2 separate regions of the Homo sapiens genome follow, and region 1 is linked to region 2. Evidence: fine-mapped expression QTL. Tissue or cell type: whole blood. Region 2 holds a variant in brackets; the other region holds the start of a gene. All regions are shown on one strand. Distances are from middle to middle.

What was found. PIP is the estimated chance that this variant, and not a neighbour inherited with it, causes the effect.
Region 1: COQ2 starts here. The variant in region 2 is fine-mapped to the expression of COQ2 in whole blood (TOPMed, PIP above 0.99). The same link has a PIP of 0.9 or more in neutrophils.

What each region holds. Positions count from the first base shown.
Region 1 is chr4:83,281,206-83,297,352 of GRCh38, reverse strand. It overlaps COQ2 (coenzyme Q2, polyprenyltransferase), which reads left to right and starts at 12,555. Exons shown (of 7, transcript NM_001358921.2): 1 at 12,555-12,841. The coding sequence starts at 12,589. It overlaps HPSE (heparanase), which reads left to right. Exons shown (of 12, transcript NM_001098540.3): 12 at 1,850-4,892. The coding sequence ends at 2,009. RefSeq lists enhancers at 7,838-8,338, 12,423-12,717, 12,913-13,152 and a silencer at 12,523-12,852.
Region 2 is chr4:83,308,546-83,324,873 of GRCh38, reverse strand. It overlaps HPSE (heparanase), which reads left to right. Exons shown (of 12, transcript NM_001098540.3): 2 at 2,510-2,655; 3 at 5,405-5,530; 4 at 11,587-11,760; 5 at 13,984-14,152; 6 at 14,796-14,843; 7 at 15,379-15,472; 8 at 15,923-16,029. It overlaps LOC105377313 (a long non-coding RNA gene), which reads right to left and starts at 10,780. Exons shown (of 3, transcript XR_938944.2): 1 at 10,755-10,780; 2 at 8,323-8,426; 3 at 8,035-8,126. RefSeq lists enhancers at 1,444-1,738, 7,598-8,797 and a silencer at 3,282-3,475. The variant G/A (reference allele first, on the strand shown) is at 8,144.

The DNA of each region.
Region 1 (16,147 bases), 27 kb after region 2:
AAAAAAAAAAAAAGGTATGTACAGTCATGTGTTGCTTAATGATGGGGATACATTCCGAGAAATGTGTCGATAGGTGATTTCATCCTTGTGTGAACATCATAGAGTGAACTTACACAAACCTAGATGGTCTAGCCTACTATGTATCTAGGCTATATGACTAGCCTGTTGCTCCTAGGCTACAAACCTGTAAAGCATGTTACTGTAGCGAATATACAAATACTTAACACAATGGCAAGCTATCATTGTGTTAAGTAGTTGTGTATCTAAACATATCTAAAACATAGAAAACTAATGTGTTGTGCTACAATGTTACAATGACTATGACATTGCTAGGCAATAGGAATTATAATTTTATCATTTTATGGAACCACACTTATATATGCGGTCCATGGTGGACCAAAACATCCTTATGTGGCATATGACTGTATACATGTACACAAAAAATAGATGAAAGAATGAATATACATCAAAATATTTAAAATGGTTATAATGACTTAGGTTACTTTTATTTATCTTAGTAATAATAATGATGATAGATAATACTTTTATAGTGTTTACTATATAAAAGACACTGTTATAAGTGTTCTACATACTTTACATGTATTACCTAAATGATATAAATATAACTCTGACAGTAACTAATCTTATACGTTCTCTTTTCTTTTTTTTTTTTTTCTTTTTTTAGACAGAATCTTGCTCTACCAGGCTGGAGTGCAGTGGTGCAATCTCGGCTCACTGCAACCTCCGCCTCCCAGGTTCAAACGATTCTCATGTCTCAGCCTCCTGAGTAGCTGGGACTACAGGCACACACCACCATGCCCGGCTAATTTTTGTATTTTTGGGTAGAGATGGAGTTTTGCCATGTTGGCCAGGCTGATCTTGAACTCCTGGCCTCAAGTGATCTGCCTGCCTCAGCCTCCCAAAGTGCTGGGATTACAGGTGTGAACCACTGTGCTCGGCCTAATCTTACAAGTTTTCAATATTTAAAGAGTGCTAACTTTGTTGACAATATAAAACATATTTGAGAAAAAGAGATATAAGCATCTTATTTAGAATTATGAAAATATCAATAGACCTACAGCCGACTAAAGCTTTTCTTCATAAGCTCTTGCCTATATTGATTCGCTCCTGTGAATATGCATTAATTTGATTTAAATAATAAGTATGTATAAGAAATAACACTTTTCCTTAATTTTTAAGAACGTTCAACAGTTTTTAATTTGAATTCCAATAGTGAAATACATAGAAAATATAAAATTTTCTGTAGTTTAGCCAAATTGTTTTTGTTTCACCACAGCATTCTACCAAAATTTCTTAATAACAGTAAGAAAATGAATGCATACCTCCTGCAGGGAGAGGGGAGTTAGGCAGTTTATGGGCATAGTTACAAGTGAGAAATTTCATTGGCTACCATTTATGCTAAATTCATAAAAACTGCATTCAATTCTATATATCTATTTTCTTTACATAAAAAAGGTTTCAATTATTGGCCATTAAATAAAATAGCCACCATTCCAGAAGTTGTGTCATGTTTATCCTTTTTATACCACCATCATATTGCCTAGTATATAGATTGTGTGTGTTCCATTTTCTGTAATGGGCCAGACAGTAAGTATTTCTGGCTTTGGAGTCCATATGGTCTCTATCATAACTACTCATCCCTGCCATTGTAGCTTAAAGATTATCTAGGTCAAATGCCTAAGTGATATAGTGTTGAAATACAAGTTATATAATATAGGCTGCCACAAAAAAAAATTTATTTGGTCTAAAAAAGATTTCATGACTTTTGTAGCAGCATGGGTGGGGCATGCACCACTTGGTTAACTCGGTGTATCTTTCTCCTTTGCAGATCTGTCCAACTCAATGGTCTAACTCTAAAGATGGTGGATGATCAAACCTTGCCACCTTTAATGGAAAAACCTCTCCGGCCAGGAAGTTCACTGGGCTTGCCAGCTTTCTCATATAGTTTTTTTGTGATAAGAAATGCCAAAGTTGCTGCTTGCATCTGAAAATAAAATATACTAGTCCTGACACTGAATTTTTCAAGTATACTAAGAGTAAAGCAACTCAAGTTATAGGAAAGGAAGCAGATACCTTGCAAAGCAACTAGTGGGTGCTTGAGAGACACTGGGACACTGTCAGTGCTAGATTTAGCACAGTATTTTGATCTCGCTAGGTAGAACACTGCTAATAATAATAGCTAATAATACCTTGTTCCAAATACTGCTTAGCATTTTGCATGTTTTACTTTTATCTAAAGTTTTGTTTTGTTTTATTATTTATTTATTTATTTATTTTGAGACAGAATCTCTCTCTGTCACCCAGGCTGGAGTGCCATGGTGCGATCTTGGCTCACTGCAACTTTAAGCAATTCTCCTGCCTCAGCTTCCTGAGTAGCTGGGATTATAGGCGTGTGCCACCACGCCCAGCTACTTTCTATATTTTTTGTAGAGATGGAGTTTCGCCATATTGGCCAAGCTGGTCTCGAACTCCTGTCCTCGAACTCCTGTCCTCAAGTGATCCACCCGCCTCAGCCTCTCAAAGTGCTGGGATTACAGGTGTGAGCCACCACACCCAGCAGTGTTTTATTTTTGAGACAGGGTATCATTCTGTTGCCCAGGCTTGAGTGCAGTGGTGCAATCATAGATCACTGCAGCCTTTTAACTCCTGGGCTCAAGTCATCCTCCTGCTTAGCCTCCCAAGTAGCTAGGACCACAGACACATGCCATCACACTTGGCTATTTTTAAAAAATTTTTTGTAGAGATGGGGTCTCGCTATGTTACCCAAACTGGTCCTGAACTCCTGGACTCAATTGATCCTCCCACCTTGGCCTTCCAGGTGCTGGGATTTCTTTGGGAGTACAGCATGGTACAGCAGGAGATCATTTGATGTTACCTCTGTGCAGTGTTGCTAGTCAGCGAAAGACTATAATACCTGTGGGGACAGCGATTAGCCACCACAACCAGTCTTTATTTAAAGTTATTAAAAATGGCTGGGCGCAGTGGCTCACACCTGTAATCCTAGCACTTTGGGAGGCCGAGGCAGATGGATCACCTGACGTGAGGAATTTGATACCAGCCTGGCCAACATGGTGAAACCCCATCTCTACTAAAAAATACAAAAATTAGCTGGGTGTGGTCCTGTAGTCCCAGCTACTTGGGAGGCTGGGGCAGGAGAATTACTTGAACCCAGGAGGCAGAGGTTGCAGTGAGCCGAGATTGTGCCACTGCACTCCAGCCTGGGTGACAGAGAGAGATTCCATCTCAAAAAAACAAGTTATTAAAAATGTATATGAATGCTCCTAATATGGTCAGGAAGCAAGGAAGCGAAGGATATATTATGAGTTTTAAGAAGGTGCTTAGCTGTATATTTATCTTTCAAAATGTATTAGAAGATTTTAGAATTCTTTCCTTCATGTGCCATCTCTACAGGCACCCATCAGAAAAAGCATACTGCCGTTACCGTGAAACTGGTTGTAAAAGAGAAACTATCTATTTGCACCTTAAAAGACAGCTAGATTTTGCTGATTTTCTTCTTTCGGTTTTCTTTGTCAGCAATAATATGTGAGAGGACAGATTGTTAGATATGATAGTATAAAAAATGGTTAATGACAATTCAGAGGCGAGGAGATTCTGTAAACTTAAAATTACTATAAATGAAATTGATTTGTCAAGAGGATAAATTTTAGAAAACACCCAATACCTTATAACTGTCTGTTAATGCTTGCTTTTTCTCTACCTTTCTTCCTTGTTTCAGTTGGGAAGCTTTTGGCTGCAAGTAACAGAAACTCCTAATTCAAATGGCTTAAGCAATAAGGAAATGTATATTCCCACATAACTAGACGTTCAAACAGGCCAGGCTCCAGCACTTCAGTACGTCACCAGGGATCTGGGTTCTTCCCAGCTCTCTGCTCTGCCATCTTTAGCGCTGGCTTCATTCTCAGACTCTGGTAGCATGATGGCTGTAGCTGTTTCATGGGCCCCTTCAAACCTCATAGCAACCAGAGGAAGAAAATGAGCCATTTTTTGAGTCTCCTTCATAGACTTGAATAACTCTTTTTCAGAGCTTCTCACAGCAAACCTCTCCTCATGTCTCCTCATGTCTTATTGTTCAGAAATGGGTAATGTGGCCATTTCACCAGTCACTGCCAACAACAACGAGGTTCCTATAATTGTCTCTGAGTAACCCTTTGGAATGGAGAGGGTGTTGGTCAGTCTACAAACTGAACACTGCAGTTCTGCGCTTTTTACCAGTGAAAAAATGTAATTATTTTCCCCTCTTAAGGATTAATATTCTTCAAATGTATGCCTGTTATGGATATAGTATCTTTAAAATTTTTTATTTTAATAGCTTTAGGGGTACACACTTTTTGCTTACAGGGGTGAATTGTGTAGTGGTGAAGACTCGGCTTTTAATGTACTTGTCACCTGAGTGATGTACATTGTACCCAATAGGTAATTTTTCATCCATTACCCTCCTTCCGCCCTCTTCCCTTCTGAGTCTCCAACATCCCTTATACCACTGTGTATGTTCTTGTGTACCTACAGCTAAGCTTCCACTTATAAGTGAGAACATGCAGTATTTGGTTTTCCATTCCTGAGTTACTTCCCTTAGGATAACAGCCCCCAGTTCCGTCCAAGTTGCTGCAAAATACATTATTCTTCTTTATGGCTGAGTAATAGTCCATGGTACATATATACCACATTTTCTTTATCCACTTATCAGTTGATGGACACTTAGGTTAATTCCATTCAATTTCATTCAATTTAAGTATATTTGTAAGGAGCTAAAGCTGAAAATTAAATTTTAGATCTTTCAATACTCTTAAATTTTATATGTAAGTGGTTTTTATATTTTCACATTTGAAATAAAGTAATTTTTATAATCTTGATATTGTATGACTATTCTTTTAGTAATGTAAAGCCTACAGACTCCTACATTTGGAAGCCTTGTTTTCCTTCACTGCTTTGTTTATACCTGGAAACAGGATATAGAACCACTAGTGTGTTGTTTCACCCCTTGTTATACTATCAGGATCAGAAGTGGGGGTTTTCCAATGCACAGTCTGAGACAAGGACTTGGGTCAGGTGGGTTATTTGGGAATAAGGAATGAAAGAACAGGGAGTGTGAGAGGGAAGTGAAGAAAAAACCAATATTAATTTTTGCTGTTGAGTTTGCTGCTGTGGGCAATGAGCGTTCAGTTCCACCAGCACTACCAAGAATTGTAGGGGATGCCTCCCAAAATTTGTCTCTTATTATTCTCTTATTTCTCATCAGCTATCATTTTATAGTCACATTATTGTCAATTACAATTTCTACAAAGAACACCAGTTTCACATAAAATTATTTTAAGGCCGGAAGCAATTATAGTTAATGATTGTATTTGTTAAGCTTGAAAGTCACTTTAACGTCTCATTTGGGAGTCAAACGATAAATATTTTCTTTTCTATTCTCTCTTTTTTTGAGAAAGGGTCTCACTCTGTCACCCAGTCTGGAGTGCAGTGGTATGGCATGCTCATGGCTCACTGCAGCCTAGGCCTCCTGGGCTCAACCCACCTCAGCCTCCCTAGTAGCTGGGACTACAAGTGCATGCCACCATGCATTTTTGTATTTTTTGTAAAGACAGTGTTTTGATATGTTGCTCAGGCTGGTCTTGAACTCCATGGCTCAAGTGATCTGCCTGCCTCAGCCTCCCATAGTATTGGGATTACAGGCATAAGCCACCACACCTGACCAATAAATATTGTTTAAACCTAAAACACCTTCTCTAGGGCCAACCACAAAAATCAGATGAAACATAGTAGAGACGAAAAATATGAATGTAGAAGTGCTTCAAACATGTAAATCTGCTAAAATGAAGGGTACATGTAAAGTGGAATGAATGTTCTGGTTGACGCACCATTTAAACAAATATTTGTGGGATGAATGAATTTATTCTCCATCCACTAGGTGCAACATTTCTGCATTAGCGTTCTCTAGAGAAGAGAAACAGTACCAATAGGATATATATAAAGATATAAAGAGTTTTTTTTTTTTTTTTTTTGGAGACAGAGTCTTGCTCTGTCACCCAGGCTGGAGTGCAGTGGCGTAATCTCGGCTCACTGCAAGCTCTGCCTCCCGGGTTCACACCATTCTCCTGCCTCAGCCTCCCCAGTAGCTGGGACTACAGGCGTCCGCCACCAAGCCCGGCTAATTTTTTTGTATTTTTAGTAGAGATGGGGTTTCACCATGTTAGCCAGGATGGTCTCAATCTCCTGACCTGGTGATCCGCCCACCTCAGCCTCCCAAAGTGCTGGGATTACAGGTGTGAGTCACTGCGCCCAGCTGATTTATTTTAAGGAATTAGTTCAAGCAATTATGGAGGCTGCTGAATCCAAAATCTGCAGGGTAGGCTAGCTGGCAGGCTGGAGACCCAGGAAAGGACCGATGTTGCAGTTGAAGTCCAAGTCCAAAGGCCATTTGCTGGGAGAATTCCTTCTTGCCTGAGGTAGGTCAGTCTTTTGTTCTATTCAGGCCTTCAGCAGATTGGATGAAGCCCACCCACATTATGGAGGGCAATCTGCTTTACTCAAAATCCGCCAATTTAAATGTTAATTTCATCCTAAAACACCCTGTATTAGTCTGCCCTCATGCAGCTAATAAAGACATACTTCAGACTGGGTAATTTATAAAGGAAAGAGCTTTAATTAACTTACAATTCCACATGGCTTGAGAGGCCTCACAATCATGGCAGAAGTTGAAGGAGGAGCAAAGGCACATCTTACATGGTGGCAGGCAAGAGAGCTTGTGCTGGGGAACTCCCCTTTATAAAACCATCAGTTCTCATGAGACGTATTCACTATCATGAGAACAACACAGGAAAGACCCACCCCCATTATTCAATTACCTCCCACTGGGTCCCTCCCACAACACATGGGAATTATGGGAGCTACAGTTCAAGATGAGATTTGGGTGGGGACACAGAAAAACAGTATCATTCCGCCCTTGGCCCCTCCCAAATCTCATGTCCTCACATTTCAAAATCAATCATACCTTCCCACAGTCCTCCAAAGTGTTAACTCATTTCAGCATTAACTCAAAAGTCCACAGTCCAAAGTCTCATCTGAGACAAGGTAAGTCCCTTCCCCCTATGAGCCTATAAAATCAAAAGCAAATTAGTTACTTCCTAGATACAATGGAGGTACAGGCATTGGATAAACACACCTGTTCCAAATGAAAGAAATTGGCCAAAACGAAGGGGCTACAGGTCCCATACAAATCTGAAATCCAGCAGGGCAGCCAAATCTTAAAGCTCCAAAATGATCTCCTTTGACTCCATGTCTTACATCCAGGTCACACTGATGCAAAAGGTGGGTTCCCATGGTCTTGGGCAGCCCCAGCCTGTGGCTTTGCAGGGTGCAGCCCCTCTCCTGACTGCTTTCATGAGCTGGCATTAACTGACTAAAGCTTTTCCAGGTGTGCAATGCAAGCTGTCAGTGTATCTACCATTCTGGGGTCTGAAGGATGGTGGCTCTCTTCTCACAGCTCCACTATGCAGTGCCCCAGTGGGGACTCTGTGTGGGGGTCCACACCACACATTTCCCTTCTGCATTGCCCTAGCAGAAGTTCTCTTATGAGGGCTCTGCCCCTGTAGCAGACCTTTGCCTGGACATCCAGGCATTTCCATACAACCTCTGAAATCTAGGCAGAGGTCCCCAAACATCACTTCTTGACTTCTGTGCGCCCTCAGGCACAACAACACATGTAAGCCACCAAGGTTTGGGGCTCGCACCCTCTGATGCAATGGGTTGAGCTGTACGTTGGCCTCTTTTTGCCACAGCTGGGATGCAGGACACCAAGTCCCAAGACTGCACAAAGCAGCAAGGCCCTGGGCCTGGCCCACAAAACCATTTTTCCTTCCTAGGCCTCCTGGCTTGTGATGGGAGGGGCTGCCATGAAGACCTCTGACATGCCCTGAGACATTTTCCCCATTGTCTTGGTGATTCACATTTGGCTCCTCATTACTTATGCAAATTTCTGCAGCCCCCTTGAATTTCTCCTCAGAAAATGGGTTTTTCCTTTCTATCGTATCATCAGGCTGCAAATTTTCTGAACTTTTATGTTGTGCTTCCCTTTTGAACACAAGTTCCAATTCCAAACCATATCTTTGTGAATACATAAAACTAAATGCTTTTAACAGTACCCAAGTTACCTCTGGAATGCTTTGTTGCTTACAAATTTCTTCTGCCAGATTCCCTAAATCATCTCTTTCAAGTTCAAAGTTTCACAAATCTCTAGGGCAGAGGCAAAATGCCACCAGTCTTTTTGCTAAAATATAGCAAGAGTCACCTTTGCTCTAGTTCCCAAGTTCCTCATCTCCATCTGAGACTACCTCAGCCTGGACTTTACTGTCCATATCACTGTCAGCATTTTGGTCAAAGCCATTCAACAAATCTCTAGGAAGTTCCAAACTTTCCCACATCTTCCTGCCTTCTGAGCCCTCCAAACTGTCTGTTATCCAGTTCCAAAGTTGCTTTCACATTTTCGGGTATCTTTACATCAGCACCCCACTATACCAGTACCAATTTACTGTATTAGTCTGTTCTGATGCTGCTAATAAAGACATACCTGAGACTGAGTAACTTATAAAGGAAAGAGATTTAAGTGACTTACAGTTCCACATGGCTGGGGAGGCATCACAATCATGAAGTTGAAGGAGGAGCAAAGGCACATCTTAACGTGGCAGCAGGCAAGAGAACTTGTGTAGGGGAACTCCCCTTTATAAAACCATCAGATCTTGTGAGACTTGTTCACTATCTTAAGAACAGCATGGGAAAGACCTGTCCCCATGATTCAATTACCTCCCACTGGGTCCCTCCCATGACAGATGGGAATTTATGGAGGCTACAATTCAAAATGAGATTTGGATGGGGACACAGCCAAACCATATCACACCTTCATAGAAACAACCAGAATAATGGTTTACTTGTCTAGTTTTTTTGAGACAGGGTCTTGCTCTGTCACCTAGGCCAGAATGCAGTGGTGTGCACTGCAACCTTGACCGCTCGGGCTCAAGTGATCCTCCTACCTCAGCCTCCTGAGCAGCTGGGACTAAAGGAGTGCACCACCAAGCCCAGCTAATTTTTTTAAAGATTTTTGTAGCGATGAGGTCTCACTTTGTTGCACAGACTGGTCTTGAACTCCTGGGCTCAAGCAATCCTGCCTCAGCTTCCCAAAATGTTGAGATGACAAGTGTAAGCTACCAACCTGAGCTTCATAAGCCTCTTAACTAATATCCCTACTTATCTCACTGCTTGCCTACAGTTTACTCTCAACCCAGTATTGAGAGTAATTATTTAAAATATAAGTCAGTATGAGACAAGAACTATGAGAGGAAAATAAAATAAAATAGAAGTCAGGTCATGTCTCTGTTCTGTTCACAATCCTCCAATGGCTCCCTCTTATTTCACTTAGAGAAAAGCCAAAGTCCTTACCACGGTATGTAAGACCCCACACAACCTGGTCCCTAGTCCTCTCTGCTCTCATCCCTGATCTCTCTCCCTTTTGCTCACTCTACTCTATCCACACTGGCCTCCTTGCTCTTATTAAGAAAACACTTCAAGCTTGCTCCCATCTTAGGGCCCTTGCACTAGACATCCCTCTAAGAGTATCTAGTGATATTCTTCCCTCAGATCTCTCATAGCTACTCCCTTATCTCCTTCAAGTCTTTGAGAAAGTGAGATCAGGGCTGTCCTACCACCCCAATTACCATATTTAAGTATACATACAGCCTGTCCCTACTTTTCCCTGTTACTCTTCTTTTCTCCATACCACTTACCACCTTCGAACATACTGCAAAATCTATTTGATTACCTTTTTCAGTCCTTGTGATGTGGGGAGGGGTTGTCTTGTTTCCAAAGCCTTGTCAGTCATTGTAATTCATTCTTCTGGCCACCATAAAAAAGATGAGAGGTTTATTATTTGTTTTTTTGAGACAGGGTCTCACTCTGTCACCCAGGCTGGAGTGCAGTGGCATGACCATGGCTCACAAAGCCTCAACCTCGGGGGCTCAAGCAATCCTCCCACTTCAGCCTCCCAAGTAGCTGAGACCACAGGCATATGCCATTATTCTCAGCTAATTTTTGAATTTTTAGTAGAGATGAGGTCTCACTATGTTGCCTAGACTGGTCCTGAGTTCCTGGGCTCAAGCAATTCTCTCACCTGGGTCTCTCAAGTGTTGGGATCACAGGTGTGAGCCACAGTGCCTGGCCAGAATAATTTTTGACCAAATGTTTTGGCACTATGGCCTAGCCAAATTGACATGTAAAATTAACCATTTCAGTTCCTGTGGGTAATAGGTTTAAAACAAAATGAGTTCCTGCCCAATCCAAAATGAGGAATTGGCGTTGTGTACATGTACCCTAAAACTTAAAGTATAATAATAATAAAATTTTAAAAAAAAAGAAAGTCACTTCAAAAAAAACAAAAAACAAAATGAGGAATCGGAGCCTTACAGGCCCTTTTAGAGAAAGCCTAGTCCCTTCCTTTTCTGAAGAGTTTGCAGCAGTTAAATGGCTTTCCCAAGGGCATACTGTGCCTTGGCATTAGTCTAGAGGAGACTCCTGAAAGTTAGGGCTCTACTCTATGTGACTGTTCTCTTGTCCTACAAATTAGCAGAGTGACATGTGGGTACCCATCTCAGTTTCCTGTGCACTTTAATTGGACCAAATATCTTAGGATTGAATCACCTCTGGGCAGGGTCAGCATCATGGGTACATGTGCAGTCACCCAGGGCCTACGCTAAGAAGGACCTTGTACTTGGTTTAATGTCCTGCTGTTGCCATCTTGAAATTCTTAATATATTTTTTTAAACAAAGAGTTTGGACCTATATTGGAAAGTCATGGATGCAATACATGACTGATATTACACCCTTTTCAGGTTTGAGTCAGATCTAAATCATCTCCAATCTAACAACTAGGAGTGTTACTAAATTGCCTGCTGGCCTTTATTCTTTGCAGGCAGGAGAAAGGCTAGGTACCCCCTGCCTCATTGCACCAAAGTGGCCAGGCATCCAACTTGCTGTACTTGAGCCATGCAAGAAGTCACAGAATCATTGTACATGTTTTACAGAAAGGAGCCTAAAGACTAAGTCAACTTCCTAGAATATTAAAATCCAGATGAGTGACTTGCCTAGGGTTACTCAGTGAGAGGTTAAATGAGTTGATACATGTAAAGTGCCTGGCACACAGCGATATACAGAGTTGCTTATGAATAAGAGTACTGACCATCTGAGGCAGGAGGATCTCTTTAGCCCAGCTGTTCAAGACCAACCTGGGCAATATAGTGAGACCTCCTCTCTATGAAAAATTAAAAATTAGCCAGCCACGGTGGCTCGTGTCTGTGGTCCCAGATATTTAGAATGCTGAGATGGGAGGATCGATTGAGCCCAAGAGGTGGAGGCTGCAGTGAGCCATGATCCCTCCACTGGTCTCCAGCCTGGATGACAGAGCAAGACTCTGCTGACCAGACTTTTCAGCTTCAGGTTCTTAGCATCACACATGCTGGTTGTCTACTGATTACAAAAACTCCTTTGAAGGGCTGTCAAATTTAAAATTTTCACTTGTGTAATGAACATCCCTTAACCCTGAATGCGATTTTAATTTACAGTCTTGTATGTGGCCACTTGGTGCCCTTTTTTTTTTTTATGGCTAAACGTGTACGCAAATTCTTCTTTTGGATTCAGTAGGTTTTTCAAAGCTTTTTTTTTTTTTTCCTGGTACAACTGTTCCATATGAATAAACACTATCCTTTTCATTTTATGGAGAAAGCTGATAATAGGGTTAAATTATAGGGGGCCATTGTTTTGAACTAAGTTCCTGCACTAGGTCCCAACAGATCAGACTAAGAATCAAGAGTCACCCATGCTAAAGTTCCAAGTCACCAAACTAAAACTAAGTTGTATCTGACATTCTGAGAAGTCAGGAAAGAGAGACAACAGCCAATTTTCCAACCAGGCCATTTCAAAATGCAATCGTCATGACAATTAAGTTTCCTGTTTTAGTCCTTAACCTGGTGTAACCTAATGTTAACCAATCCGTTATTTCTCTGTTGTTGTTTCCCTGTCCCCGCCTCGCAATGAAAGTAATTTGAAGTGACCAATCCGCTTTTTGTTCTCTGCTTCTGCTTTCTTCAGCCCTTTTTCTGTCTATAAAGCCAACTTCCTCCGCTCGACTCTTTGGAACACTTATTCTATTTTACAGAATAAGGTGTTGCCCGATTCTATTTTTTGTTTGTTTCCTCAGAGACCCCGTTCTGAGTGTTGCCCGATAATGGAACCACAAAGTCAATCAAGATCGAGTTGTAAAAAATTACAACTAAATTTATTGTAATTTTTTTGCCTTTTGCCAATAGAAATCCCTTTTTCATTAAGTATTCCTCCCTAGAGTAAGCGACCACGATGACCCCAATTTCACAAGTAAGGATGAGGAAAGGTTCTGCCCACACCGCCGCCCAGCCTGGCAGACTAGGATTGCATCCTGCGGGTGCCACTGCGCATGCCTGCCGGGGAATGACGTCAATCCGAGCTCGTCCCGGCCTCACCAGCGCCATGCTGGGCTCGCGAGCCGCGGGGTTCGCGCGGGGCCTGCGGGCTGTGGCACTGGCGTGGCTGCCGGGCTGGCGGGGCCGCTCCTTCGCCCTGGCGCGTGCGGCAGGCGCGCCCCACGGTGGTGACTTGCAGCCCCCCGCCTGTCCCGAGCCGCGCGGGCGCCAGCTCAGTTTGTCCGCGGCGGCGGTGGTGGACTCTGCGCCCCGCCCCCTGCAGCCGTACTTGCGCCTCATGCGGTTGGACAAGCCCATTGGTGAGTGCGGGCGGGCGGGCAGCCCGGGAATTTGCAAGTAGCAGCCTCCGAGTCGGCTCCGCGGAGCTGTCCGCGGCGGCCGGCCGGGGCGTGATGGAAATGAGAACCTGAAAGCTTGGGCTTGGCTGCCGGGTGCCGTGCGCCCTGGGGCGAATCACCTCGGGACACTTTGAAATGAGAGCCTGAAAGCTTGAGCTTGGCTGCCGGCTGCCGTGCGCCCTGGGGCGAGTCACCTCAGGACACGCAGTCGGGACAGTCTCCTAAAGGACCCGCCAGTTTCACGTCTGTCTGCATCCTGAGCACCTGAAGCGGGCAAGATAATTCTCATTCCACAAACACTTGTTTAAATGGTGACTCAAGCGGAAGGTTCCGTTCTCGTGGCCCTCCTTCATTTATTAGAATGTTTGATCCTCCCCGCAATCTTGTAAGGCCCACAAAGACAATCCTTAAGACAGTTAAGACGCTGAGGAAACTAAGGCTCCTCGTCAGAGCCAGACCAGAAGAACTCTGTGTTTTGATGCTGAGTCGGAGCTCTTTTACCTGCATCACCCATAAGGCAAAGATTTAATTCATTTGAACGCAGCAGGGACAGCGCTTACGGACTGCCTGTCAGCTTACAATCGCCCCCGACAGAAAGATTTTCCTGACCTTCCTATCTTAATTAACACCTACCAACCTCACTTTCTATCGCTTTATCCGCAATTTTTCTTAATAGCACTCACCACTAACTAACCTTATGCGCTTGTTGATTGATTGGCTTCTCCAGTAGTGTTAAGTGAATTAATAAGTTCCTACTACGTTGTCCGGCCATAGAGATAGAAAAAGCTATGGAAACCCTTTGCTTTCAAGGAACTCTGGTCTAGTTGAAAAAGACTATTTGGTGAGCTAGGAAAATATGGATCAAATATGAGTGATACAAAAGCAAGTGCTACAGGAAAAAGAGAAATTACTGTGGATCCCTTGCTGGAAAGTTTCGAGAAGAAATTATACTCCAAAGGACAAGTTGATTTTGCAGAGGAGGGAAGAGATCTTAGTGCGGGAAGTACTTTTGCAAAGACCCAAGGGTGGAGTGTTAGAACACTAAGAATACGAGCCTGACCTGGAACACCAAGTGGGTGTGGAAAATGGGAAACGAGACTAGACAAGAACATATCTGAAGAAGCTGGATAGCGTGGAGGAAGAAGTGAAGGATGAACTCCAGCCAATCTAGATGATGACATTTGCCATTGCAGTGTATGGAGATGTAGTCAAAGGCCTAGGTACATTTACTCCACTTTTGCCCGTACAAGACCCGAATTAGGCCTTGCTTTTGGTATTCTAGATTTATGCACGACCTATTTGGGATTAGAGCACTAAGTTATAACAATCAGCTATCAAAGCATAAAAGCCTACTGAATGATAGGTACAGCCCTGCCATCATTGGGAAGCTGTGTATGACCCCCATGAGTTTTGGGGCCACATTCACGTTGAGAGGCATGCATTTCCAAGCCCAGTTCCAATCTGAAGCCTGGCTGTAATTCTGTTCTTGGAGTCTGTGGCATGGAGTGGCAGTGTAGCCTTATAGATGAACATCTGCCATTATTCCCATTTCCCCAGTTAAACCTCTGGCTTCTATCTTAGTGGCTGGACCTTCCGCCATGTAACAGAAGGCAACAAAGGGGTTATGAGCAAAACTTTGGAGCCAAACCTCTTGGATGTGAACCTCCACCCTGCTCATCTGAGGGACCTTGGATAAATTACTTCACCTCTCTGGGCATCCGTTTTTCATCTGTAAAATGAAGATACTATTAATGATAATATGGACGTTATGAGGTCACGAAAATTCATTAATATATGTTAAGTGCTTAGAACAGTGCCTGTCATAATATGTGCTGAAGAAATAGCCATTATTATCTTAGAAGTGGGGAATGGAGAAAATTGTACTTACAGATTGTGTATGTTTGGAAGATACCAGCCTGCATGGTTTGGTTCTAAATAAGGTGATCATTACAGGATTTTTCAGAAAACTAAATAGTACTATGTTAGAATTCGCTCAACAAATGTATTTTGAACCCCTACCATATGCCAGAAACAATAATTGACAGGAGTAGAATTCCAGGTTTGATAATTCTTTATTTAAATTCTTATTTTGTGGGATAATTATGTGTTCGTTGTTTTACTTTGTTGAAGTTATATCTTGTTACCTTCATTGATCAATAGTAGGTTTTCGTTGTTTTTGAGAAGGCAATACAGCTTCTTTCAAATGGGCTAAACTACCTTATTCCAGAAAGTGTCAGCAGGTGGCACTCTTTCCACCAAATTGGAAGTGTAATTTTTTGTTTTACCACGTTTATGGGTGATTATGTTGTCTTGAAGATCATCTGTTTTTGATCTGTCCATCACCCCTCAGAACTTGCTCATTTTATTTCATCTCCCATAGAGTTTTTCCCTTTTCTACAAAAACATTTCTTTTTGCAATCTACTTGTCTCTTGTCTTTGCTACCTCTGCGTCTTTCTTCACAGAAAAGTATGGGGAATGAAAGTGTCATATGGAAGACAAAAAAAAAAAAACATTGCTAGGAATCAGTAGGGACAAAAGAACAGGTGAAACTGAAGTGTATGGAGAGATTTAGGGAGTACAGAGTGACAGCATTGGACTTAGGACACAGACTGCAGCCAGACTGTCTGGGTTGGAATACCACCTTAGCCTTTTTTTACCTGTGTGGTCTTGGGCACAATTACTCCCTCTCTGCGTCAGTTTCTGTATTTGTAAAATGGTTGTAATAAAAATAGTGCCTATCGAATAGGCTTGTTGTGAGAGTCAAAAGTGTTCTGTGAAACCACCTGGTACAGTAAGTGCCATGTATCTGTTATTACGGTTGTCATAACATCATTAATATTGTCATCTCTTAACGACTCTGTGAGGTAGCTGTTCTCTTCCCTCATTTACAGATGAAACAAAGACTTAAGCCTTAAGATACTTTACTGTCTAGTGTCACTCAACTTACAAGTGGCAGACATAGAACTGAGAAGTCTTCTTACTTTCCCCTTCACTGTAGGAACCCTTGTCATCTGTAGGGGAGCTCTACAGATTCCTATCAGTAAGTGAATACGGTACTTTTAATACAGATTTTTGGCCAAGGAAGTTTTGTTCCTGACAGAAAACACTATAAGTGGTTACACGTCTTTCTGTCTAGAATTTTTTTCTTTTTAGTGGAACCTTCTGTTCTAATTGTACCAGGAAATAATAGCTGTGAAGTGGTATTCTCTCTTCTCTAGCCTAGGAGGATAGGATCAGCTACTCCTCTGTCCCTTGTGAACTATACT
Region 2 (16,328 bases):
CACACTCACATTGTTGTGCAAATATCACCACTATCTATCTCAGAACTTCTTCGTCTTCCCAAACTGAAACTCTGTACCCATTAAACAATAGTGCATCCTCTGTTTTCCCCTCCCTACAATTTATTTTTATTTGGGTTTGTACCAAACTGAAAATAGCTGCTTCTTCCTTACTTAGTTCAGATTAGCATTTCCATTTATTTAGCCGTGGTTTTGAGGATGCCATGACAGATGCCATCCTTCCTAGAGCTCTTTGGGGCTGTCAGGTATTTCAGTCAGGGTGAATTCGGGTTGATAACATTTTAAAATCTCACTTTATTCTGAGGTTCCTAGTGTCAGAGCCCACCGTATTTTTAGGGACTCCCAAGTTACAAACAAAAATATGGTGAGGAGGAATCACTGAAGTTTTAACACAAGAGACTTACATTTTGTTCAATTTCTATCTTTTAGTTTATTTCCTAAGCATAAAGAAATACTTTGAAAATTTTACATAGCATTATACATATTTAATTAAGCATGAGCACATCTTAAAACTTTAAATTTTAGATCAGATCTTTAATTCCTAGGATATTAAGAGGTACTGGCAATTTGGCCAGGTGTGGTGGTTCACGCCTATAATCCCAACACTTTGGGAGGGTGAAGTGGGCGAATTGCTAGAGCCCAGGAGGTGGAGGCTGCAATGGCCTGAGATCACGCCATCGTACTCCAGCCTGGATGATGAGAATGAAATCCTGTCTCAAAAAAAAAAAAAAAAAAAAAAAAAGAAGAAGAAGAAGTATTGGCAATCAGTGCTCCAGGAATAATTTCCTGACTTGAAATAAACCTACATGTAGACAAACTAATTAGGCCATTCCAAGAGTTGCTAGCATTGGTTTAATATGTTTTCAGAGCATTCCAGGAAGCAGTGTGGCCAGCATTGCATGTTTGATACTTCAGAAATGTATGACAGGTGTTTCTCTTACCCAGGTCTTCTGTTTTCTTAGTTTTGCTCATGTAAATATTTATGAACATCCTCATCTTTTTGAGGGAAGGGATTATAGATCATTCTAATTCCATTTTCTAGCATTTGGTACCATTCTAAGCACATGATAGGCACCCATTTGGAGCATTTTTGGCTTGACAGAATATGCATTTAGAATTGTTCAAATTAGAGGTGTCAGTGATGGGAATTAGAATACTATATAATTCTAAGTCATTTGACTTAAATACAAAAGAATGATTTTCCTTGGTGGGGAATGGTGAAGGGAGGCAGGAGTTAAGAAGAGGAGAAGAGATCCTAAGTCATTTATAAACTTCTCTGGAAAGACAGGTGTGTGAAGACTTTTTAAAAAGTCATTCACCAAATTGTGTGTGTGTGTGTGTGTGTGTGTGTTTTAAATAGACTTTATTTTTTAGAGCAGTTTTAGGTTCACAGCAAAATTGAATGCAAGGACAGAGATTTCCCATAAACCCCCTGCCCACACACATGCATAGCCTCCCTCATTATCAACATCCCCACCAGAGAGGTGTTTGTTCTAGTTGATGAACCTACACTGACACATCATTATCACCCAAAGTCCATAGTTCACGGCAGGGTTCACTGTCGGTGTACATTCTATGGGTTTGAGCAAATGTATAATGACATGTATCCACCATTATAGTAACATACAGAGTATTTTCAGTGCCCTGCAAATCCCCTGTTCTCCACCTATTCATCCCTCCCTCTCTGCATTTCCACCCCCAGCCCCTGGTAACCGCTGATCTTTTTACTGTCCCATAGTTTCGGACGATCTATTTTTCAGACAGACACAGAGCTGTCTTTCCCTTAGTTTCTATTCTATCATTTCTTTCTCCCCATCCATCATAAAAGGCTATGAGTTTTTTTTAAGTGTTGAACACCATCCTACTTGTCAAGTTAAAACATAAGCTCCTGGCTGGGTACAGTGGCTCATGCCTGTAATCTCAGCATTTTGGGAGGCTGTGGCAGAAGCATCACTTGAAGCCAGAAGTTTGAGACCAGCCTGGGCAACATAGCAAGACCCCATCCCTCCACACACAAACACACACACACACACACACACACACACACACACACACACACACACACAAACAAGCTCTTGCCAGAATTAGAGCTACAAATTGCCCTCAGGTTCCTAGAAGATCAGTCCTTCAATTAGATTCAGATTGAGATGCTTCCTCTTTTAAACAATGATTCCCTTTCTATCATGCCCAATAAGAAAACAAATAAAAATTAAACAATACTGCCTGTAATCTCAGCTACCCAGGAGGCAGAAGCAGAACTGCTTCAACCCGGCAAGCAGAAGTTGCAGTGAAGTGAGATCGCGCCACTGCACTCCAGCCTGGAAAACAGAGCAAGATTCTGTCTCAAAAACAAAACAATGTGATTTCCTCCTCTAAGTCCTGCACAGGGAAATGTTAAGAAATAGGTCCACCAGGAAAGAAGGAAGTAAGAATGTTTGACTAGATTGTCTTGGAAAAAATAGTTATACTTTCTTGCTTGTCTTCCTAACAGTTCTCCAAAGCTTCGTACCTTGGCCAGAGGCTTGTCTCCTGCGTACCTGAGGTTTGGTGGCACCAAGACAGACTTCCTAATTTTCGATCCCAAGAAGGAATCAACCTTTGAAGAGAGAAGTTACTGGCAATCTCAAGTCAACCAGGGTGAAAATTTTTAAAGATTCACTCTATATTTTAATTAACGTCAGTCCGTCATGAGAATGCTTTGAGAAAACTGTTATTTCTCACACCTAACAATTAATGAGATTAACTTCCTCTCCCCTCATCTGACCTGTGGAGGAATCTGAACAAGAGGAGGAGGCAGTGGGCAGGTTTCCTTATCATGATGTTTGTCATGTTCAGTGTGAGGCCTCACAAAAAAAAAAAAAAAAAAAAGGCGTCCTGGATATAACTGAGAGCTCATTGTACAGTAAATATTAATAAAACAGTGATTGTAGCTGAAGGATAGAACTGCTTGGAGGGAGCAAGTGGGTAGAATCGCGTCAAACTAAAGAGCATTTCTAGCCAAAGACACAATGATAGATTGAAGGATATTTATTCTAAATATAGAATATGGGTGAACGAGATCTGTGGACTTCTGGGCTCCAACGTTAGATTCTGATTTTAGCAAGCTTGTCAGGGGATTCTGATATTGAAAGGCTGTGGCCTTCACCTGAGAAACCTGCCCTAGGGGGCCATGAAAATTTGTCCTGTCTTTCAGAAGTGCTATCAGACATCAAATGGAAGTTAAATCGTATCTTAACAATTACTAGGATGGGCGCAGTGACTCACACCTGTAATCCCAACACTTTGGGAGGCTGAGGCAGGAGGATCACTTGAGCCCAGGAGTTCGGGACCAGCCTGGGCAACATAGAGAGACGTTGTCTCTATTTTTTAATAATTTAAAGAGAAAAAAATACTGAAAATATTGTATACACCACTGAATTATAATAATGTGTATATAACGTATATATTCATTATGAGGAATATTTGATTATTTCATATATTATATCTTTTCCTTCTGTTTATTTTATCCAGTTATGAAGTATTTAGAACAATTCATCAGTAATTGGGGCTAAATTGACAGAATAGTAATCAGAGAAAATAGAAAAAGACAGATGGGTTATCTTTGAATACCAGGTTGGAGTTGTTTATGGGTTTGTTTTTTGTTTTGGGGGCGTTTTTTTAGACAGAGTCCCACTCTGTTGCCCAGGCTGGAGTGCAGTGGCACAAGCATGGCCCACTGCAGCCTTGACCTCTTGGGCTCAAGCAATCTTCCCACCTTAGCCTCCTGAGTAGCTGGGACCACAGGTGCATGTCACCACACCCAGCTAATTTTTTTATTTTTTGTAGAGACAGTCTTTCTATGTTATCCAGGCTGATCTCAAACTCCTGCACTCAAGTGATCCCCCTGCCTTGGCGTCCCAAAGTATTGGGATTATAGGCATAGCCACCACACCCAACCTAGTTTCTATTTAGACTTGGCCCTTTCCCACCAGTCATTTGTGTCCAAAAGATCTCATAAATGTAGACAGGAAACTGTCCTTTGCTCATCAGTTTTCTTCATCCTGTGTCTAGGGGGATGGTCGGTGGGGGAAACTGGGGTTATGCAAGTTCCTCTGAAACATCCTCTGTGAGCCCAGGGATGGATGAGGCACCAGCCGCCAGCGAGTCAGTGTGCAGCTTTCCAGAAAGGAAGTCATCAGCCAGTCAGCCGGCCCTGGCAGCCAGCACCCGGCAACCCTGCTGTCTTGTGATAAAGAAATGGTCTGCCTGACAGGATGGTGTGGATTTTTCTTTTTTCTTTTTTTTTTTTTTGAGACAGGGTCTGGCTCTGTCGCCCAGGCTGGAGTGCAATGGCGGGATCTTGGCTCACTGCAGCCTCTGCCTCCCAGGCTCAAGGCATCCTCCCACCTCGGTCTCCCGAGTAGCTGGGACCACAGGCACACACCACCACGCCCAGCTAAGTTTTCGTATTTTTAGTAGAGGCAGGGTTTTACTATGTTGTCCAGGCTAGTCTCAAACTCCTGAGCTCAAGCTATCCATCTGCCTTGGCCTCCCAAAGAGCTGGAATTACAAGCGTGAGCCACTGTGCCTGACCAGGGTGGATTTTTTCAAGTGCACATGTTGTGGTCCCAGAAGCTCTGATGGTACCAAATTCAAAGCGAAAAAAAGTCAACGGTTCCCACCCATCCTACCTCCCATGATGGCAAGAGGAAAACACCACACTGCAGATACAGTCCATGTAAAACAAATTGCTATGGATTTTGAAAGTGAACCTTAAGAGAACTGCACTATGTTTTCTTCATTAGAGTTCTCTGGTAATTTCCAGCTTTTTTTTTTTTTTTTTTTTTTAGACAGTGTCTCGCTTTGTCGCCCAGTGTCACCCAGGCTGGAGTGCAGTGACGTGATCTCGGCTCACTGCAACCTCCGCCTCGTGGGTTGAAGTGATTCTCCTGCCTCAGCCTCCTGAGTAGCTGTATTTTAGTAGAGACGAGGTTTCACCATTTGGCCAGGCTGGTCTCGAACTCCTGACCTCAAGTGATTCGCCCATCTCAGCCTCCCAAAGTGCTGGGATTACAGGTGTGAGCCACTGCACCCGGCCAGTAATTTCAAGCTTCTGAGGAGCCCTTTGAATTGTTAAATAACTTGTAGCTATGTCCAACATATCCATGTTCAGTGTATGTTCAATATTTCTTAGGAAACCTGCCCTTGGTTGTTTTCTTTGTGGTAATTCATGAGCCGGCAAATTTGACATGTGTTACAGAATATACCTTTTCTCTGCTCTCCTACCTCATAACCAGAACTTAATTATCCTGCTTTAGTCACATAAATAGCTAACTAAATAAATATATGCGATTTCAGTCTGCTCACTGTGAAAACAGACCTTCTAAATGATCTCTTCCACTTGCAGATATTTGCAAATATGGATCCATCCCTCCTGATGTGGAGGAGAAGTTACGGTTGGAATGGCCCTACCAGGAGCAATTGCTACTCCGAGAACACTACCAGAAAAAGTTCAAGAACAGCACCTACTCAAGTAAGAAATGAAAGGCACCCTAGAGATGTTCCAGCCCCAAAGATATTTGAATAGGTTGGACTCGGGCACCAATCTAGCAAGTCCTACGGAAGTTGTATAAAGCTGAAAATACTGAAGCATTTCCCAAATGGGAAATCCTAAACTCAAAACTTGCTTTTTGGTTTTTTTTTTGTTTGTTTTTTCTTCATCTGACATTGCTTAGTAGTCACAGAATGAAAGATAAATCAATCATTCATGATCTAACAATGACCTTCAGTGCTCTAAAAAACTACGGAGTCAAGGAAAACATGAATATATTCCTCATGTAAAATTAAAATACAGACATATAAAGGGCAAAACATGAACATCATTCATACCTTGAGGTCCGTCCCCCTCCCAGAAATAACCCCCAGTATGCCTTGGTTTAGAGCATTAGGCAGGAGGGCCCTGAGTCACTCCAGACAGTCTTGGCCACCAAGCAGCATTCTCTTTTTGTTTCCTCTGTGGCTTTTGCAAACACAGGGCTAGCTCAGCTACCCATTAGTATGTTTTCAGTCACTAAAACAGTCTTCCAGTCTTCAAATTAGGATGACATTGTCACATGGGGCTTTAAAGCAAGTGAAACAAGGAACCCCCTTTTTTTTTTTTTTTTTTGAGATGGAATCTCACTCTTGTCGCCCAGCCTGGAGTGCAATGGCGCAATCTTGGCTCACTGCAACCTCCGCCTCCCAGGTTCAAGAGATTCTCCTGCCTTAGCCTCCTATTCATTATGAGGAATATTTGATTATTCAGTTCCTGTAGGGTAAAGGTATTACCCCCGATCATATTATTGATTATTGAGTAGCTGAGATTACAGGTGCCTACCATCACGACCGGCTAATTTTTTGTATTTTTTAGTAGAGACAGGGTTTCACCATGTTGGCCAGGCTCCAGGCTCGTCTCGAACTCCTGACCTCAGGTGATCCACCCACCTCAGCCTCCCAAAGTTCTGGGATTACAGGCGTGAGCCACCACTCCTGGCCACAATCCTTTTTTAACTATGAAATATATTTTTATCTGAAGTTTGATGTTTATACCCCACTGAGGGATGATGTTCCCATATCTCAGTTAAAGAAATAACCTGCTCAGATACTTCAAGCTCTTCTTTTGACTTTTGAAAATAAATGATCTTGAAGTTACTATACTTTGTTTGGGTTAGTTAACATTATTTAAAGTATATTATTTTAATTAATTATCTTTGTAAGATTTTACTGTATACTACCTGGAGTTCAATGTATCAGATGGATTTCAAATTTATGTACATTTTTTATGTATATGGTACAGAAAAAAATGTGTTCCATAAGAAATCAAAAAATAGCGCATATGCTAATAGCTAATGTTGTCCTCTAAAAAACTTTTTTTTGCATTTTTAAGAGGGCGATCTACTCTGACACTTTAATAAGTGTAATTAATTATTGACTGGAATTTGGCATGAGGCAGGGCCATTTCAGATCCCATTAAAGGAATGACACATACCAGAGAACCACAGAAGTAAGGCCACATTTGTAATAAATCATTATAGCTCTGCTAGGAGAAGACCCAGTTGTATTAGGTAATTAATGGATTTGCTCTTAAAACACATGTCCCGGAAGATATAGGTGAGTCTTGGGGGGTCGCATTAAACATTATACCAATGTATCTTACATTTCTAAGAAAGTTTTACTACTTTACAGGATCTTTCTGTTACCAAAATGGTAGGTTTCCAACTCCAGGACTTGGCTTTCATAGTTCCTACACCAGGGGAAATGCCTTCCTTTGCTAACTATGCAACCAGGTTAGTTAGTGTAAGTCCAGCCACCCTGTTGGCAATGCTAAAAGGTACAACAAACACAGAATTTTATTTGCATTTGTAAACATTTGATTTCTGGCTCGAAATTTTCAGTTTTCATGGGCACGTCATGGAAACAGAAATCTTCTGTGTTTAGTTTGGGCACCTACTCATTGTAGTGACAAATATTTCAGAAGCTAATAGGGGATTCCACAAATTGTTCTGAACCTGTGGCTGAGACTGGTAATGGCTGAGTGACATGGGGACATACCACAAAAGAAGAGGTAGCAAAAGGCTGCTGAGATAAGGACATGTTCATTGCTTAGCTAGTGGCCTGCACCCTTAAAACACATGTCCCAGGCTGGGTGCTGTGGCTCACACCTGTAATCCCAGCACTTTGGGAGGCTGAGGCGGGTGGATTACCTGAGGTCAGGAGTTCGAGACCAACCTGGCCAACATAGTGAAACCTCATTTCTACTAAAAATACAAAAATTAGCCAGGCATGGTGGCGGGCGCCTGTAGTCCCAGCTACTCAGGAGGCAGGCAGGAGAATTACTTGAATCTGGGAGGCAGAGGTTGTGGTGAGCCGAGATTGCGCCACCGCACGCTAGCCTGGGCGACAAAGTGAGACTCTGTCTCAAAAAAACAAAAACAAAAAACAAACAAACAAAAAACAACAACAACAAAAAAACGGGTGTCCCAGAAGATACAGGTAAGTTTTCTAACACAGGTCCTCTTGTATGGTGCGTTCCACTTAAGTAGAAGATGACAAAAACATTTGTCATGAGAATATAGACTCACATTTTAAACCTGTTTGAGCAGGAAAA[G/A]GAAGCAGTGTTACAGATGTAATTCCGGGTGTGACTGCAGAAAGGATGACTCCCTTATTAAAGTAGTCATCCTGAGTGAGCTAACTCTTTGTACTTCCTCTTCTCCTCCTGTTCCCCTCATCACCCCATTCTTCCGTTGCCTACACCCAGGCCCACATTGGATGCTGACATAGACTTACATGGTACAGTCCAAGGGAAAGATCTGCCATTTTTTTCAATGTGTCATCTTGGTTATCTTCATTCCAAGGATCTCTCCACTCTTTATACAGTAAGAGATGAGAGTCTGGAAAGGATTGGGAATAAGATAATGAATTGTAAGTTTTAAATTGTTCTTCGTATTTTGAGTAAGGAGTAGGCTAGGTGGTCCTTCTGTTTTTTTTGTTTTTTTTTTTTAAAGTAGATGTGGCCAGACGTGGTGGCTCACGCCTGTAATCCCAGCACTTTGAGAGGCTGAGGCAGGTGGATCACTTGATGTCAGGAGTTCAAGACTAGCCTGGCCAACACAGTGAAACCCCATCTTTACTAAAAATACAAAAACTAGCCGGGCTTGGTGGCGTCCACCTGTAGTCCCAGCTACTGCAGAGGTGGAGGCAGGAGAATCACTTGAACCCGGGAGGTGGAGGTTGCAGTGAGCCAAGATCATGCCATTGTACTCCAGCCTGGGCGACAGAACAATACTCTGTCTCAAAAAAAAAGAGAAAAGAAAAGAAAAAAAGAATGGATTTGAACTCAGTCGTCAATAGCCTCTATTCCAGGAGATGTTACAGTTGATTATGTTATAGGGGGTGTATAATAGAATTTCGAGCTATGTAAATTCCAAGTGCATTTGGAAGAATGAAGAAATGGAGGAAGGGTAAAGTATGAGTGCAAGCATTCCAGGTTTTTTGAAAATGCTATAATCTTTGTTCAGGGCTAGTACAAAGTGCTATTTAGCTGTAAGGGTTTTTTGTGATTTACAGACAGTTTTCACATGTGTCATTTCAACCTTGGTTTTATGGCGAAGGCATGTGATGGTGCTTGTCCCAGGACTTTAGATCCATATCTGAGGTTCCTGTCGGGCAAAGATATTACCCCTGTTCATATTATAGTCTATAAGTGGGAGAGTTGTGCCTGGAGCTCAAGTCTTATGATTTCTGATCCAGGGCACTTCCTACAACATGATTTTGCAATATAAAAGCCTATAATGTGTGACTAAAGCAGGTCACTCACCCCTTGTAACAGACTCTAGTAATGGTACTGCCACCAAACGGCTGCGTGATATTGGGCAAAGACTTACCTTATTTGAATCTCAGTTTCCTCCTAGAAAAATGAGGGTGGAGGTTAAGCATAGGCTGATGATCCTAAAGCCTCCATACTGCCTTAAACTGTGGCTCTAAGATCCAGTAGAATGCTGGGTCACAGGACTCTAGAGAGCTTTTCAAACCCAAATGTCTGTCATTCCTTGATGGTAGGCAGCAGTTTATGGAAGTGGGTGACACAGCAAATATCAAAATACCTAAAGCAGCTTGCAAGAGTTGTTTCTGCCTAGTGGTCTTTATAGTTAATATTAAATAGTTAATTTTTTTTTTTTTTTTTTTTGAGACAGAGTCTTGCTCTGTTACCCAGGCTGCAGTGCAGTGGCACAATCTCGGCTCACTGCAACCTCCACCTCCCGGGTTTGAGCAATTCTGTCTCAGCCTCCCAAGTAGCTGGGACTACAGGTGCATGCCACTGCACCCAGCTAATTTTTGTATTTTTAGTAGAGACGGGGTTTCACCATATTGGGCAGGCTGGTCTCGAACTCTTGACCTCAGGTGATCCACCTGCCTCAGCCTCCCAAAGTGCTGGGATTACAGGCATGAGCCACTGCACTCAGCTTAAATAGCTAATATTTAATATTATTCTATAGTTATTCAAGTAATTCAGGCCAAAGACTTAGAAACAAAACAAAAAGCCACTTTTAAGGAGAAAGGGTGTAAGTTTGCCAGATAGATAGAGATCTTTCTTTTTTAACTACAAGAGTTCAGGAATGAATTACTCTTTAACAAACGACTATAGATATACATGAAAATTGGAAGGACTTATTATGCATATGATAATCAATTTAAAGACAACACTTAAAATTATATTGTTGCCACTCTCAAAAAGTGGTAATAGAACAGCTAATGGTTTAAAAAGCAGAGTACAGAAGTTCCCAAACTTATGGCACCTTAATATCGCAGAAAACTTTTTAAAGCATGCCTAGGCCACAAAAAATACCTGTATTTTGATTATTAAATTGTAAGGTCTACACAACCTAATAGTAATAGGTCCAATAGTAATGCTGTCCAATAGATGTTGATGTTTTTTTCCTTGCAAACTTAAAAGATCCTACAGTGCCTCTGTAAATAGCACTGCCTGGTTAGAGTTGAATTTCAGATAAATAATTTTTTTCATGTTAATTATTTTTCTTTTCTTTACTTTTTTTTTTGTTTGTTTTTTTGTTTTTTTTTTTGAGACAGGATCTCATTCTGTTGCCCAGGCTGCTGTGCAATGGCATGATCATGGCTCACTGCAGCCTTGACCTCCCTGGGCTCAGGTGATCCTCCCACCTCAGCCTCCCAAGTAGCTAGCTGGGACTACAGGTGCTTACCATCATGCCCGGCTAATTTTTGTGTTTTTTGTAGAGATGTGGTTTTGCCATGTTGCCCAGGCTGGTCTTGAACTCCTGGGCTCAAGTGATCCGCCCGCCTCGGCCTCCCAAAGTGCTAGGATGACAGGCATGAGCCACTGCACCTGGCCCCTGTGCGAAGTATTTCTTAATGGTTACATAGGACATACACTAAACATTATTTATTGTCTATATGAAGTTCAAGTTTAACTAGGTGCCCTGCACTTTTAGTTGCTAAATCCTGTAGCTGTACCCATGCATTCACTGGTGCTCCCCAGCTTGCCTTGCACAGAGTTTGGAAACCATAGTCCTATAACTCTAGGCCAATTTTTTAATGTAAAATTTGATTCATTTTAAATTAATAAATCATAACAGGAATTTTTTTAAAAATTGTTTTAAATATAATTAAAATTATCAAAATATTTTTTAACTGAACTTGTGACTAGAGATATTTAGATTATGAAGAGTGGGGTTTATGCTAACTAATGACAGTCTGGCTATGCATGTGGAGCACTGAGCTATAAATTGTGGCTTCCCCAATTCTCCTGATGTCACTTGAACAAAACCTAAGTGTCAGACCAGAGCTTCTGGTATCTTCCATGGGATTTCATTCAACAGCTGGAGCAAATGAAGTCAGATTGATTTTTTTTAATTTGTCCAATTTTGTTGTCTCAAAAACATAATTATAATCATTTATTAGAACTAGAATTTCTTCAGTTTAACAACAGAAATAGTTATTCATTATGAAAAGCGAATCTGGAGGCCTTCATTGTGGTGCCAATCTAACCATTAAATTGTGACGTTTTTCTTTTAGGAAGCTCTGTAGATGTGCTATACACTTTTGCAAACTGCTCAGGACTGGACTTGATCTTTGGCCTAAATGCGTTATTAAGAACAGCAGATTTGCAGTGGAACAGTTCTAATGCTCAGTTGCTCCTGGACTACTGCTCTTCCAAGGGGTATAACATTTCTTGGGAACTAGGCAATGGTGAGTACCCCAGGGAACAATTCATTAATAAGGAGATCCCCCACTAGCATTATTTCTTTTCTTTTCTTTTTCTTTTTTTTTTTTTTTTTTTTGAGACAGAGTCTCGCACTGCTGCCCAGGCTGGAGTGCAGTGGCGCCACCTCGGCTCACTTGAAGCTCTGCCTCCCAAATTCACGCCATTCTCCTGCCTCAGCCTCCCGAGTAGCTGGGACTACAGGCACCCGCCACCGCGCCCAGCTAATTTTTTTTTTTTTTTTTTTTTTTTTTTTTTTGCATTTTTAGTAGAGACGGGGTTTCACCGTGTTAGCCAGGATGGTCTTGATCTCCTGACCTCGTGATCTGCCCTCCTCGGCCTCCCAAAGTGCTGGGATTACAGGCGTGAGCCACCAGGCCCGGCTAGCATTATTTCTTATGACACTTTTTTTTTTTTTTTTTTGAGACGGAGTCTCGCTCTGTCGCCCAGGCTGGAGTGCAGTGGCGCCATCTCGGCTCACTGCAAGCTCCACCTCCCAGGTTCACGCCATTCTCCTGCCTCAGCCTCCCGAGTAGCTGGGACTACACGCACCCGCCACCACGCCCGGCTAATTTTTTTGTATTTTTAGTAGAGACGGGGTTTCACCGTGTTAGCCAGGATGGTCTCTATCTCCTGACCCCATGATCTGCCCGCCTCGGCGTCCCAAAGTGGTGGGATTACAGGCGTGAGCCACTGCGCCCGGCCAACACTCTTTTTATTATTAGCAAATATACTTCTGCCTGGGCACATTCTTGCAAGTGCTCAACAATGCAACTTTTGGAAGTGCATGTGGCAGAAACTCCTACTGTATTTATTCCAGAACCTATTATTGCTAATCCCAGTTTATGTTACATTTGAAGTGAGAACCAGTTGGAGCCAGCAACGTTCCCAGCTCCAAAGTTCCCTTGAGATTTTCAGAATCACTTAACCCTATTATGCTTGGCAAGCTGGACTCAGCAAAACTGGGAAGTCAGCAGTTTGTTTTATTCATCCCTTCCTTTCTCATTTTCTCAAATGTGTCAGTTAATCTCAGTAACCCCATTGCAACCTTCATTACCTGCCCAAACGGTCTAGAACTTGCCAGTATAGAATCCTACGTGGGTCAAGCTCCTGACTGTCTCCTTCTTCACTCTTTTTTTGCAAAGAACTTGTAAATTTTAACTATAAGTATTCATGATTCGCCACATTTATTCAAAACATAGAGTGCTTTTTCCACATATCAGCCAATGGAAATAAGGATTAAATGGGAAATGAAATGTAGTAATAGGATAAGCACAAGTCTTCTTCCTGCTCAAACTTTTTTTTTTTTTTTTTTTTTTCAGACAAGATCTTGCTCTGTTACCCAGGCTGGAGTGCAGTGGCGTGTTCATAGCTCAATGTAACCTCCAACTCCTGGGCTCATGCAATCTCTCACACCTCAGCCCCCTGATTAGCTAGGACTACACTATGCCTAGCCAATTTTTTTTCTTTTGTCTGGTTGTGTTGCCCAGGCTTGTCTCGATCTCCTGGCCTCAAGTAATCCTCCTGCCTCGGCCTTCTAAAGTGCTGGGATTATAGGCATGAGCCACTGTGCCCGGTCTCAAACCTTTTTTTCCAAAGTAAATGAAGTTATTAGATATGGAATATAGTCTAGTTCCCAGATATCCATATCCATTGGTTTATTACCCTCATTATTAACTTCAAATTGTTTAATAGACCCTCATATCTCAGTTATACAGTTAAAATTTTTGTTTTGTTTTTCTGGAGTATCTTATTTATAACTTTGAGTTTTACTTTACTTATTTATTTTATTTTTTGAGACAGACGCTTGCTCTGTCACTCAGGCTGGAGTGCGGTTGCGTGATCATGGCTCACTATGGCCTCGACCTTCTGGGCTCAAGTGATCCTCTCCCTCAGCCTCCCAAGCTGAGACTACAGGCATGCACCACCACATCTAGCTAATTTTTTTTTTTCCCCATGGAACAGGGCTTTACTATGTTACCCAGAGTGGTCTCAAACTCCTGGCCTCAGGGGATCCTCCTGTCTCAGCCTACCAAAATGCTGGGATTACAGGCATGAGCCATAGCGCCAGACCTGGTTTTACTTTTCTTGACTTTGAATTACAAGTTTTTGTAATTTGGAAAATGTTTTGTTGCTTTTAAATACTGCTATATGTTTGCTTTTAAATACAACATTTCTCGATATATATTTTGAGAATTGCTGTCTTTCAGAACCTAACAGTTTCCTTAAGAAGGCTGATATTTTCATCAATGGGTCGCAGTTAGGAGAAGATTTTATTCAATTGCATAAACTTCTAAGAAAGTCCACCTTCAAAAATGCAAAACTCTATGGTCCTGATGTTGGTCAGCCTCGAAGAAAGACGGCTAAGATGCTGAAGAGGTAGGAACTAGAGGATGCAGAATCACTTTACTTTTCTTCTTTTTCCTTTTGAGACAGAGTCTCACTCTGTCAGCCAGACTGGAGTGCAGTGGTACAATCATGGCTCACTGCAACTTCGACCTCCCAGGCTCAAGCAATCCTCCCATCTCAGTCCCACAAATAGCTGGGACTACAGGTGCACATCACCACACCTGGCTACTTTAAAAAAATTTTTTTGTAGAGATGGGGTCTCCCTGTGTTGCCCAGGCTGGTCTCTTGAATTCCTGTGCTCAAGCCATCCTTCCACCTCAGCCTCCCAGAGTGCCAGGATTACAGGCATGAGCCACCACACCCAGCCACCACTTTTCTTAAAAAAAAAAAAGATTCTCTCTGGTAGACAATCCTCAATAGTCCACATGTTATTAAACAATCTGCTGCCTGAATACATGATTTACCAAAAAAAGGAAATTTTGACGGGTTCAGAATATCAAGGGATCTGAGGCAAATGTCACCTATGATAAAATTTGCTATCAAAATTAGGAAGTTTGTGTTTACCTGATCCTAAAGCAGTAACCAGCCCATTTCTAGGGAATAAAACTCTCATGCGTATATTGTGCATATATATGTATTATATGACTGAGTGATAATAAAATTTTTTTTCTAGCTTCCTGAAGGCTGGTGGAGAAGTGATTGATTCAGTTACATGGCATCAGTAAGTATGTCTCCTATTCTTAATACTAGGAAAGTAAGGCTAGCTTTATTTATTACCTAGTATTCAAAAAGTTAGTTCATTTAACTGCCAATTGACTGCAGTTCAAATAAGAAACAAATAGTGTCTCAAGTAGCACTGTACTCCAATTTTAATATTAATAAAAAAAATTTAAAGTTATTTTAAATAATGTAGTGGTTTCTATAAAGATCACTTTATACAGAAGAACAGTGCCAATTAACCCATGGAACATATAAGTAGCTAAAACCAATTGCTTGCCAAAGAACCAGTAACCCAGGAGTACATGTACTTGCCACTGTGTTTTTTCAAGACAGAGTAACTGATTTCTAGTTACTTGCATAGAATGGACTCCTCCTCATAACTCCCTTCCATCTTGGTCTTTCCCTAGTAGAACTTCTACCTTTTTTTAGTAACAGGTGAGTGGGAGAGGTAAGAAGGAGAATAAGGTCAGCAATTAACCTAAAAGCAGAAAGTAAAATTTGTTATTTTTTTTCTGAATATTTTCTGTGTAATTTAGCTACTATTTGAATGGACGGACTGCTACCAAGGAAGATTTTCTAAACCCTGATGTATTGGACATTTTTATTTCATCTGTGCAAAAAGTTTTCCAGGTAATAGTCTTTTTAAACTTTTTAATGTAAAACCAGAATCCTTATTTTATAGTCTAGCTAGTTCTAAATTCTATAGGTATGTATATTTACATGTTTTTCTAATTTTAGAGAACAAGCACTATGACTTATCCACTGTTAGTTTTCCCCTTAGCATTGGGTCTTACCCCATGTACGTGATTAGAAATTTGAAATATTTCCAATAGCCTTTAGTAGAATTAACTCACATAGATGATAAGAATGGGTTGGTTCACTTCATGTTCCTTCCACAGCCTACTATTTCAATAAAAGAAAGTTTCCCAAGACCTAAATGACTATGAACATATTTTATAACTATATAGGAGGGGTGGGTCTAGGAATACAAAGTTTTGAATGCTGTTAATCTTCAACACCACAGTTGAAACCACAGGTCAGCTTTTTTGCAATTACCATGGATACTTTTCTGTTCTATAGGTGGTTGAGAGCACCAGGCCTGGCAAGAAGGTCTGGTTAGGAGAAACAAGCTCTGCATATGGAGGCGGAGCGCCCTTGCTATCCGACACCTTTGCAGCTGGCTTTATGTGAGTGAAGCAGCGCTGGCCTTAGGGGTCAGAGTGCAGCTCTTCTCCATCCTTCTATTCTGCTGAAATAGCTCCCCAGCCAAAAAGCAGATCAAAGACCATTTCAGTGGCTGAGCCCCAAAATTCATGCCAGATTTTGCAAGAAAATGATTTACTAAAGCTTGAGGGACATCTTTAACAAGTGTTCCAAATTAATCACTATAAGGATGAATTGTTTCAGAAATTTTGGCCTTTAATTATGGCCCATAAATATGTCAAGTAGTCCTTACTCTAAAGAAGTACACTGTAAAAGAATGCAT